Homo sapiens: one gene and its partners. The protein of the gene in region 1 interacts with the protein of each later gene in a pairwise test. Each region holds a gene or a part of one and is shown in the gene's direction. Other genes may lie near its edges.

The links.
Region 2: the proteins of TSPAN7 (region 1) and SMO interact in a two-hybrid assay, tested with the Homo sapiens proteins (one large-scale study listed by BioGRID and IntAct).
Region 3: the proteins of TSPAN7 (region 1) and CCR2 interact in a two-hybrid assay, tested with the Homo sapiens proteins (one large-scale study listed by BioGRID and IntAct).

What each region holds. Positions count from the first base shown.
Region 1 is NC_000023.11:38,560,187-38,564,452, forward strand, and holds the start of TSPAN7 (tetraspanin-7), read left to right. Parts: upstream 1-1,355; 5' UTR 1,356-1,360; coding exon 1,361-1,441; intron 1,442-4,266. UniProt on the Homo sapiens protein: May be involved in cell proliferation and cell motility.
Region 2 is NC_000007.14:129,202,006-129,205,659, forward strand, and holds part of SMO (protein smoothened precursor), read left to right. Parts: intron 1-617; exon of another isoform or gene 618-731; intron 732-1,378; coding exon 1,379-1,584; intron 1,585-3,197; coding exon 3,198-3,407; intron 3,408-3,604; coding exon 3,605-3,654. UniProt on the Homo sapiens protein: G protein-coupled receptor which associates with the patched protein (PTCH) to transduce hedgehog protein signaling. Binding of sonic hedgehog (SHH) to its receptor patched prevents inhibition of smoothened (SMO) by patched.
Region 3 is NC_000003.12:46,359,222-46,361,540, forward strand, and holds the end of CCR2 (C-C chemokine receptor type 2), read left to right. Parts: 3' UTR 1-455; coding exon of another isoform or gene 456-639; 3' UTR 640-1,719; downstream 1,720-2,319. UniProt on the Homo sapiens protein: Key functional receptor for CCL2 but can also bind CCL7, and CCL12. Also transduces signaling mediated by CCL13.

The sequences.
Region 1 (4,266 bases):
CTCATTACTCTAAAAAGAAGCCGCTTACCCATTAAAAGTCACCTCATTCCTGCCTCCCACTCGCTGCAACCACTAATCTCTTTTGTCTCTATGGATTTGTCTATTTTGGATATTTCCTATACATGAATCATTCAATATGTGGTCTTTTGTGTCTGGCGTCTTTCGCTTAGCATATTTTCAAGGTTCATCCACGTTGCAGCATTTACCAGTAGTACTTCATTCTTTTTTGTGGCCGAATAATTTTCCGTTGTATGGAGGCACCGAATTTTGGTCATCCACTCATCAGCTGACGGATATTTGAGTTGTTTCCAATTTTTGGCTATTGTGAATAATGCCGCTATAAACATTCATGTATATGGTTTTGTGTGGGCATATATTTTCATTTCTCTTGGGTAAATACCCAGGAATGGAGTTGCTAGATCATATGCAAACTCTGTTCAACTTTTTGAGGAACTCCAAATTGGTTGTGAACATTATTTTTTGACCTCAATGCAGCTTTCCTTTACAGGAGGGAGGTGGACTGTACTTGTTAGCGCGCTGCAAATGATTCTCAGGCATATTAAACATTTTTCTGTATTCTGTTAAACATTGTATGCGCAGCAAGAATGACGCCTCATACAGACCTTTCTTGTCATTTCGTTTTATTATTTCAAAATGTAAGACAAATCTGAAAAATGGAGGAGCCTGCAGATACCTGTGGTGGCGAGGATTTGGGGTCTGTCTGAGCTCCGGCGTTCCTGCCCATCCCTCCAGCTGTATCTCTGGCCACCTGTCTGTTCCTGGCACAAACAAGGCCTGCTGGTTGCCAAGGACATGACTACGGGGCCATTTCCATGTGAGAAGGCCCTGGGGGGTGTCAAAATGCAGAAACGTGACTGATGGGCAGCGGGGCACCCATAAACTTCCCATAGCCAGGTGCAGGCATACCTGCAAATGTAACGCCCAACTGTGTACAAAGCAGAAATCTAAATGCCAGGGCGGACTGGGAGAGGTTCCCGTGACCTCTGACCCGGCCTCTAAATTCTCCCATTCCCTCCCCACTGTCCTGCCGCGCCCCGTGTCGCCTCGCCTGGCCTCGCCTGGCCTCGCCTCCCTCCTCCGCTGGGGGTCTAAGCCTGCGCAGTATTGCGAACGCGGGCGGCGTTTCCCGCATGCGCAGTCACTGCCCGGCCCGGCTTTTTCAGTAGGAGCCCCGCGCGGTGCGCGCTCACGCACGCGCACGGCCTCGCCTGCGCGCTCACGAGGCCTCTCGCGGCACGCGCCCCCGCCCCGCGCCGCCCCGCCCCGCCCCGCCTCTTCCCCCTCCCGCGCGCCCGCCCGCCGCCTGCCGCCGCCGCCGCCGCCGCCGGAGCTCTGTAGTATGGCATCGAGGAGAATGGAGACCAAACCTGTGATAACCTGTCTCAAAACCCTCCTCATCATCTACTCCTTCGTCTTCTGGGTAAGTGCCCACGCCGGGCCGGTGGCCGAGTCGCTGTCCATCGGTCCGTATGATGATGCTCTGAGAAAAGAAGTGGGGAGGAAAACCCAAACCAAAAATCAAATCTGGGACCCCTCTTTAAGGAGACAGGCGCGGGGTGCTGGGTCGGGGCTGCAGGATGGCAGGGTGCGGGTCGGGGCTGCTGGAACCCTAGACCTCGCTCCGCGCAGGCTGCAAGGGGCTGCGGAGTGTCGGTGACTGCAGGTTGTCGACCTTCCAAAAAAAAAATGTTAATGCATTAGTTTCTTTTATAATCTCCCGGGATAGGGTCAGCTCCTGGGGAAAGTTGCGGGTTTATTCGTCTGTTTTCCTCGCTGTACACCTTTCTCTCCCTTCCCCTACCAGCCGGTTCGCGGCGCCTCTTGGAGCTAACCTGTGGCGGGCTAGGAGAGGACACGGGAGCGTGGGGTTTAATCTCAGATTCCCAGTTATTCCTGACCCCACGGGGCTGCGGGAGGGAGGCACCAGAAGCACCGTGCCTGCCTGGCTGGGCAAGGGCGACCGAAGTCTCCCAAGCGCACGATGGGGAGCAGGCGTTGTCACCGCGTGGAGGCGCACGAAAGGGAGAGGGTCTTACATAAGCCGGGGGCATCTTTGAGGTTTCTTGGTGACCCAAGAGATGAGTCTTTGGATTCCTTTCCCACCTCCCTGCATCCTTACACTCCCTATCTGGTGGTTCTGTCACTGCATGAGCACAATCCGCAGCGCCCTGGCAGAGGGTCCCCTCCACTTGGTGATAGAGATAGCGCCCCAACTCTACTCCCCATCTATCCAGTGCTGCCGCCGGTCCTTGAAGCTCAATGCAGAAGGGTGACGTCACCCCTCAGCCAGGGCCGCGGGGGGCTGCGTGGTGCACCTCGCGGAGGGATGCGCCTTTCTGCGCGGGGGAGGGGGGAGGAGGAGGAGGGGGAGGAGGAGGAGGAGGAGGGGGCTCCAGGCTTGTGCCTTACCTCATCCTGTTTGGCAAATCATGGAATCAGTGCAGGGCTGACACTGCAGTGATTCACTGAGAGAGGTGCGTGGTACTTAAAGACCATTCCCTGTTATTTCTCTTTTCATGTCGGTGACCCCGTCTTCCCTAGTTCCTTACGCCCATAATCAAGCTACAGCTACCCCGCAGGGGAATGAATATCGACCCTCTTCCCCCCTTGTCCCCCAAATCTGGGTCATTTTAGCTTCTACGGCAGTCATTTTGAAATCTGAGGCTCTGTAGGAAAAGCCAGTTCAACCTTTGCTTGTTTTCTTCTTGCACCCCTCACCCCCGCCCCTCACCCACCACCATATATTAGCCCTATTTTTGCTTTGAAACTGGAGCACAGTGCTGTATGAGGTACCGAGAATCAGCTAGATGGCAAACCGGACTGTTTGCAATGGTCAAGGAAGAAGCAGAGATTTATTGAGGATCAAAAATATTCCTAATGCACCCGGACATTTCCTTATCGCTGGCGTTGGTGGTTCTTCAAGTCAGGGAAGGTATGGACTCCCCAGACCACACATACCAGGAGCTCTGCAATGAGCTAGGATAGATTAACTGGCATATTGCACAAGGCAAACACAGAAACGGACTTTATTTGGACTGACAACGACACAGGTTGAAATGTCTCAGTAGTGGAATTGTGAGCTATGCACAGATCATATCATCTTATGCTCTGCCTGTAAAAAGCAGTAACACATGCTGATTGCTGAAACTTCCCAGTAGCCATTCCTGGGAACTGGTTTAGCTTTTTATGTGTTTCCTTAAATCTCTTTTTGTTTGGCCCTTTATCATTTACTTGACTTCCTATTTGTTACTGGAGTGAATCATATTGGGAGGGGGGAGGTATTTTTATCTTCCTTAAAAATAAGGTTAACAGTGCACATGAAGAAATATTGTTCTTTCAGAATCACTGCAAGCTGGTAAAGAAGGGGGTCTTCCAGGCTGAGGCTTTTCATATGAGCACTTTAACTCTCCTTGCTTACATTCCACCCCTATGAATCTAATTACTTAATGCCCCCAATACATCTTAAACAATCACTGCATTTTATGTCCTCCGGAAGTTCCTTGATGCCTTCATTTTAATTTTTTCTACTTTCAAGATTTTCATAGTCTTAAATGTTAACCTGGAACATTTTCAATAGTTTAAATACCAAAGCCAGTTCTGGCTTTGGTTGTTGTAATCATTTCATACTTACAACCAAAAGAATAAGATCTCTTCGGATGTGTGAGGATATTTTAAACAAGACGTTATTTTTAAGTAGCCTTATTGAGGCATGATTCATATGCCATAAAAGCCACCTATTTAAAGTATACGATTCAGTGAGTTTTAGTATAAGTAGCACATATTTTAGTATATAAGTGGTATATATTTCTGTATATTTAGTATATTCATAGATATGTGCAACCATCACCCCAGTCAATTTTAGAACATTGCATCATTTCACAAGAAACCTGTTTCTTTAGCTGTTATCCCGTTTACCCCCCAATTTCAACTTCCCACCCTCATGCCCACCCCCTGCCAGCCCTAAGCAACCACTACTTTCTGTCTCTAGAGATTTCCATATTGCAGGCATTTCATATAAATGTAATCATACAATAGTTGCCCTTTTGTGACTGTTTTTTTCACTCAGCATAATTACTTCAAGGTTCATCCATGTTGTAGTGTATATCAGTACTTCATTCCTTTTTATGGTTGAATAATATTCCATTGAATGATTATAGCACATTTTGTTTATCCATTTGTCTGTTGGGGGACATTTGAGTTGATTGGGTCATTTAGCTATCATGGATAATGGTGCTATAAACATTC
Region 2 (3,654 bases), on another chromosome or scaffold:
GGGAACTGTTGCCTGAGGACATTGCTTCTTAACTGGCAGGAACTTGCTCTGCACCCTGGAATATACTCTGAAGGCTGGGAGCAGTCAGAGGCCTCAGACAAATAATCATAAGAGTTAACATTTCCTGAGCGCTTACTACATGACAGGTACTGTGCCAAGGGCATTTAAAGCATTATATCACTTTTCACAGCAGTTCCATGAGGTAAATCTATCATCCCCATTTTACAGATGAGGCAACTGAGGCTAAAGATAAAGTACTTTGCCCAAGATCATACAGCCAGGAAAGAGTGGAGCCAAGATTTGGACCCAGGCTGGGCAGTTGCCATGCACATGCCCCTTACCTCTCTACTATGTTGCCTTCCCCCGAAAAGAGTGGTTACCTGTCTCTACCACCCCCAGCCTGGAAATGTGACCGGCACCCATGTTGGCTCTCACATCCTCATATTCTCTCCTAATGCAACTTCTTGCTTGGGAAATAGATATTGCTGAAGCAGGGTTGATTCAGGAAGGGCTTCTGTGATGGGCAGGGCGGAGGACTAGGCTGGGGACGGGTGCTGGGAGATTGCCGCCTGTTTCTGTCTTGCTGACAACATTTTTCCCCTCTCCGCACTGGACAGAGCCTCTTCTGTTCCTCTCCATCTGACTTCCTGCTTCCTCCTCTGGCTTTGGAGTGCCTGGCTCCTCTGACTACCTCTTCTTAAGCCCCCATCTCTTCTCTCTCACTCCGCTTGGTAAGAGGAACAAGGGTTCTGGGGTCTGGGCAAAGGGAAACATCTCCTGGCTCTAGCAAATGGGCCCCGTGAGAGTTGGGTGCACCCCTGAAAAGGTAAATCCACCCCGGGGAGCTCTACCAGAGGCATTACCACTCCCTAGCAGGGCATCTGGAAGTGGCAGTTATTTTCTTAAAACTTAAATGATAGTAAGCATACAGAATAGCGCACAGATCATGAGCTTGGTTTCCACAAGGTGAATACACTCATGTAACCAGTATCAGATCAGGAGATAGAATATTCCCAACATCCCATGTAACCAGTACCAGATCAAGAAGTAAAACATTCCCAGCAGCCCAGAGGTTCCTCTCCAGGCTCCCTTCTAGTCACCGTCCCTAGAGTAGAGGGCTGGGGCATTTTTGTTTGTCACAATCACTTCTGGGTTCTACTGGCATTGAGTTGGCAGAGTCTAGTGTCTGCAATGCATGGGACAGTCCTATGGTATAAAGAACTGTCCTGCCCAGATGCACTGTTGAGAAACACTGTACCTGCCAGGTCTGACCAGTGATGGGCTGCAGTGTGGCAAAGGCCTGGAGGACAGGGGTGAAGCTGCGTCTGTGGGTCAGAGTGAGGAGGGGCCTTCACTGCAATGCTGTTGCCACCCCCAGGCCTCCGGAATGCCCCCCGCTGCTGGGCAGTGATCCAGCCCCTGCTGTGTGCCGTATACATGCCCAAGTGTGAGAATGACCGGGTGGAGCTGCCCAGCCGTACCCTCTGCCAGGCCACCCGAGGCCCCTGTGCCATCGTGGAGAGGGAGCGGGGCTGGCCTGACTTCCTGCGCTGCACTCCTGACCGCTTCCCTGAAGGCTGCACGGTGAGTGCTCTGTGAGACAAGGTCCAGGCTCTCTGGGTTGGGCAGGACCGGGTATAGGGCAGGGTCCAGTGGGGAGCAGGGGAGCCCAGAGCTTTGTCTCCTGGAGACCCTGAGCCTACAGCCATGGGGTCAACAGGACACAAACTCAAACTGCAGCTCACTGGCTGGATCCGTCTATTAGGGATTCTCTATTTATTTATCAATGATCACATGTTCAGCAAAATGTTTTGAGCACTGGCTGTTGGGTGTTGTGGTGTTACGGGCATCACGGATGACAGGAGCCTATCAGGAAGTTTCTCATGTATGTTGGGAGTTAAGGCGCGAGCGTGTGAAACAGCTAGAGCCACCAAGACAGGGGACGTGAGCTAGTTCTGGGTGGTGCAGGAGAGGTCTTCAATGAAAATAATAACAGTAATAATGATGGTAATAATACTAATTAGTCCTGTTTACTATATGCCAAATGCCATTATAATAAGCTCATGCCTGTAATCCCAGCACTTTGGGAGGTCGAGGTGGGCAGATCACCTGAAGTCAGGAGTTCCAGACCAGCCTGGCCAACGTGGCAAAACCCTGTCTCTACTAAAAATACAAACATAAGCCTGATGTCATGGTGTGCGCCTGTAGTCCCAGCTACTCGGGAGGCTGAGACACGAGAATCGCTTGAACCCGGGAGGTGGAAGTTGCAGTGAGCTGAGATCGTGCCACTGAACTCCAGCCTGGGCTACAGAGTGAGACTCTGTCTCAAAATAAATAAATAAATAAATAGGCTGGCCAGACACAGTGGCTCATGCCTGTTATCCCCACCACTTTGGAAGGCTGAGGCGGGTGGATCACTTGATGAGGTCAGAAGTTCAAGACCAGCCTGACCAACATGGTGAAACTCCGTCTCTACTAAAAATACAAAAAATTAGCCAGACATGGTGGTGGGCACCTGTATTCTCAGCTACTTGGGAGGCTGAGGCAGTAGAATCGCTTGAACCCGGGAGGTGGAGGTTGCAGTGAGCCAAGATTGTGCCATTGCACTGCAGCCTGGGCGACAGAGCCAGACTCTGTCTCTCTCTTTCTATATATATAATATATGTTTATTCATTTAACCCTTAAACCATACCATAAGGTAAGTACTACCATCTTAGAAATGGGGAAACTGGCCGGGCGCAGTGGCTCACGCCTGTAATCCCAGCACTTTGGGAGGCCGAGGTGGGTGGATCATGAGGTCAGGAGTTCAAGACCAGCCTGGCCAACCTGGTGAAACCCCGTCTAAAATACAAAATTTAGCCGGGTGTGGTGGTGGGCGCCTGTAGTCCCAGCTACTCGGGAGTCTGAGGCAGGAGAATTGCCCGGGAGGCAGAGGTTGCAGTGAGCTGAGATCACGCCACTGCACTCCAGCCTGGGCGACAGAGCGAGACTGTCTAAAAAAAGAAAGAAAAAAAGAAAGAAAGAAGTGGGGAAACTGAGGTACAGAGAGGCCAAATAATTTGCCAAGCCAGCCCTGGGATTCAGGTCCTGGAAGTGTATCTCCAGCCACCCTGCCATGCTACCTAGATACCTTTCCCTAAACAAGAGGCTCGTCCCTGAGCTGCCTTGACACCGTCTTTTCCCATCCCTGGTGCCAGAATGAGGTGCAGAACATCAAGTTCAACAGTTCAGGCCAGTGCGAAGTGCCCTTGGTTCGGACAGACAACCCCAAGAGCTGGTACGAGGACGTGGAGGGCTGCGGCATCCAGTGCCAGAACCCGCTCTTCACAGAGGCTGAGCACCAGGACATGCACAGCTACATCGCGGCCTTCGGGGCCGTCACGGGCCTCTGCACGCTCTTCACCCTGGTCAGCCGCGGGAGGGCAGGCCCGGGGGGCCCTCAGCCTGGAACGTGGGAAGAGAGCCAGAGGGAAGGGGGGCAAAGAGGTCTTGGTGGGGGTCCCCAGGGAAGGGTCATGATCAGAAGGGTCTGGGGCTCAGTTAAGGGTGTCTGTGTCAGCAGAATAACCCTAACCTCACAGAATGGCCCACTTCTCTCTTCTAGGCCACATTCGTGGCTGACTGGCGGAACTCGAATCGCTACCCTGCTGTTAT
Region 3 (2,319 bases), on another chromosome or scaffold:
ATAAGTGCATGACATATTTTTGCTTTATTACAGTTTATCTATGGCACCCATGCACCTTACATTTGAAATCTATGAAATATCATGCTCCATTGTTCAGATGCTTCTTAGGCCACATCCCCCTGTCTAAAAATTCAGAAAATTTTTGTTTATAAAAGATGCATTATCTATGATATGCTAATATATGTATATGCAATATATATAGGCTCTTGCTTGATCTCTCCAGGAGGTAGTGATTATGAGAAGGGGGTGGAGAATGATGAGTTCCTTCACCAGGAGCAAAGGACGGGGATCGTGTGGAACCACTGCAGAACTATTTCCGAAATCAACTAAGTGGAGAGAGCCAGGAAGGCTGCATCAGAACCCAGTAAAGCTTCTTGTCTGGATCTGAGCTGGTTTGTTTTGTGCTTGCTTTTCCCTGCCTTGCCACTCCCCTCACTCTTCTCTTTTCCCCACAGCCTTTTTCACATAGCTCTTGGCTGTAGGATTGCCCCACTCCAAAAACCAGTGTGTGGAGGTCCAGGAGTGAGACCAGGAAAGAATGTGAAAGTGACTACACAAGGACTCCTCGATGGTCGTGGAAAAGGAAAGTCAATTGGCAGAGCCCCTGAAGCCAGTCTTCAGGACAAAGAAGGAGCCTAGAGACAGAAATGACAGATCTCTGCTTTGGAAATCACACGTCTGGCTTCACAGATGTGTGATTCACAGTGTGAATCTTGGTGTCTACGTTACCAGGCAGGAAGGCTGAGAGGAGAGAGACTCCAGCTGGGTTGGAAAACAGTATTTTCCAAACTACCTTCCAGTTCCTCATTTTTGAATACAGGCATAGAGTTCAGACTTTTTTTAAATAGTAAAAATAAAATTAAAGCTGAAAACTGCAACTTGTAAATGTGGTAAAGAGTTAGTTTGAGTTACTATCATGTCAAACGTGAAAATGCTGTATTAGTCACAGAGATAATTCTAGCTTTGAGCTTAAGAATTTTGAGCAGGTGGTATGTTTGGGAGACTGCTGAGTCAACCCAATAGTTGTTGATTGGCAGGAGTTGGAAGTGTGTGATCTGTGGGCACATTAGCCTATGTGCATGCAGCATCTAAGTAATGATGTCGTTTGAATCACAGTATACGCTCCATCGCTGTCATCTCAGCTGGATCTCCATTCTCTCAGGCTTGCTGCCAAAAGCCTTTTGTGTTTTGTTTTGTATCATTATGAAGTCATGCGTTTAATCACATTCGAGTGTTTCAGTGCTTCGCAGATGTCCTTGATGCTCATATTGTTCCCTATTTTGCCAGTGGGAACTCCTAAATCAAGTTGGCTTCTAATCAAAGCTTTTAAACCCTATTGGTAAAGAATGGAAGGTGGAGAAGCTCCCTGAAGTAAGCAAAGACTTTCCTCTTAGTCGAGCCAAGTTAAGAATGTTCTTATGTTGCCCAGTGTGTTTCTGATCTGATGCAAGCAAGAAACACTGGGCTTCTAGAACCAGGCAACTTGGGAACTAGACTCCCAAGCTGGACTATGGCTCTACTTTCAGGCCACATGGCTAAAGAAGGTTTCAGAAAGAAGTGGGGACAGAGCAGAACTTTCACCTTCATATATTTGTATGATCCTAATGAATGCATAAAATGTTAAGTTGATGGTGATGAAATGTAAATACTGTTTTTAACAACTATGATTTGGAAAATAAATCAATGCTATAACTATGTTGATAAAAGATTTAAAAACAACTGGCTGTTTTTTTACACTGTGGTGTGGAAGATTGTGTTGTGTTCACAACTTTTCACTTCTTCCCCTGTGTGATTACACACACCTGCCCTTGTGGTGTGACTTGCAGTGCGCCCTACAGGCCACACACCCCACGCCCTCCACCACTGGCTCTGCTGCTGGAATGTGAGCAGAAGTGACATCTGCCTCATCCAAGCGGAGCCTCTTGCTCAGCCACAGGAAGGCCCATTCCAGATCACACCCGTCAGCCCGTGCGCCCTGGTGAATGAGAAGACACAGGGAGCTGCAGCCACATATAACATGAGCAAGAAGTCTGTGTTTGCTGTGATAAGCCACTGAGTTTTAGGGGTTGTTTGTTAAGAAGCACAAAAACCGATTAAGACATGTGGTATATAGTGACTTCATATATAGAATCTGGAAAACTATCCATTTATTTTCAATCATGGAATTCAATATGACAAGCATCCCGGAGGGTCTACCTATGCCAGACTGGGTTGGAAACAGAAAGACAGATGTTAATGCCAGTGTCCTTTACACCTCCAAGTCCAGGGCCAGCTGTGGAGTGGGAGGGGTAGAGAAGGTCCTGTGCACAGTCACAGTGC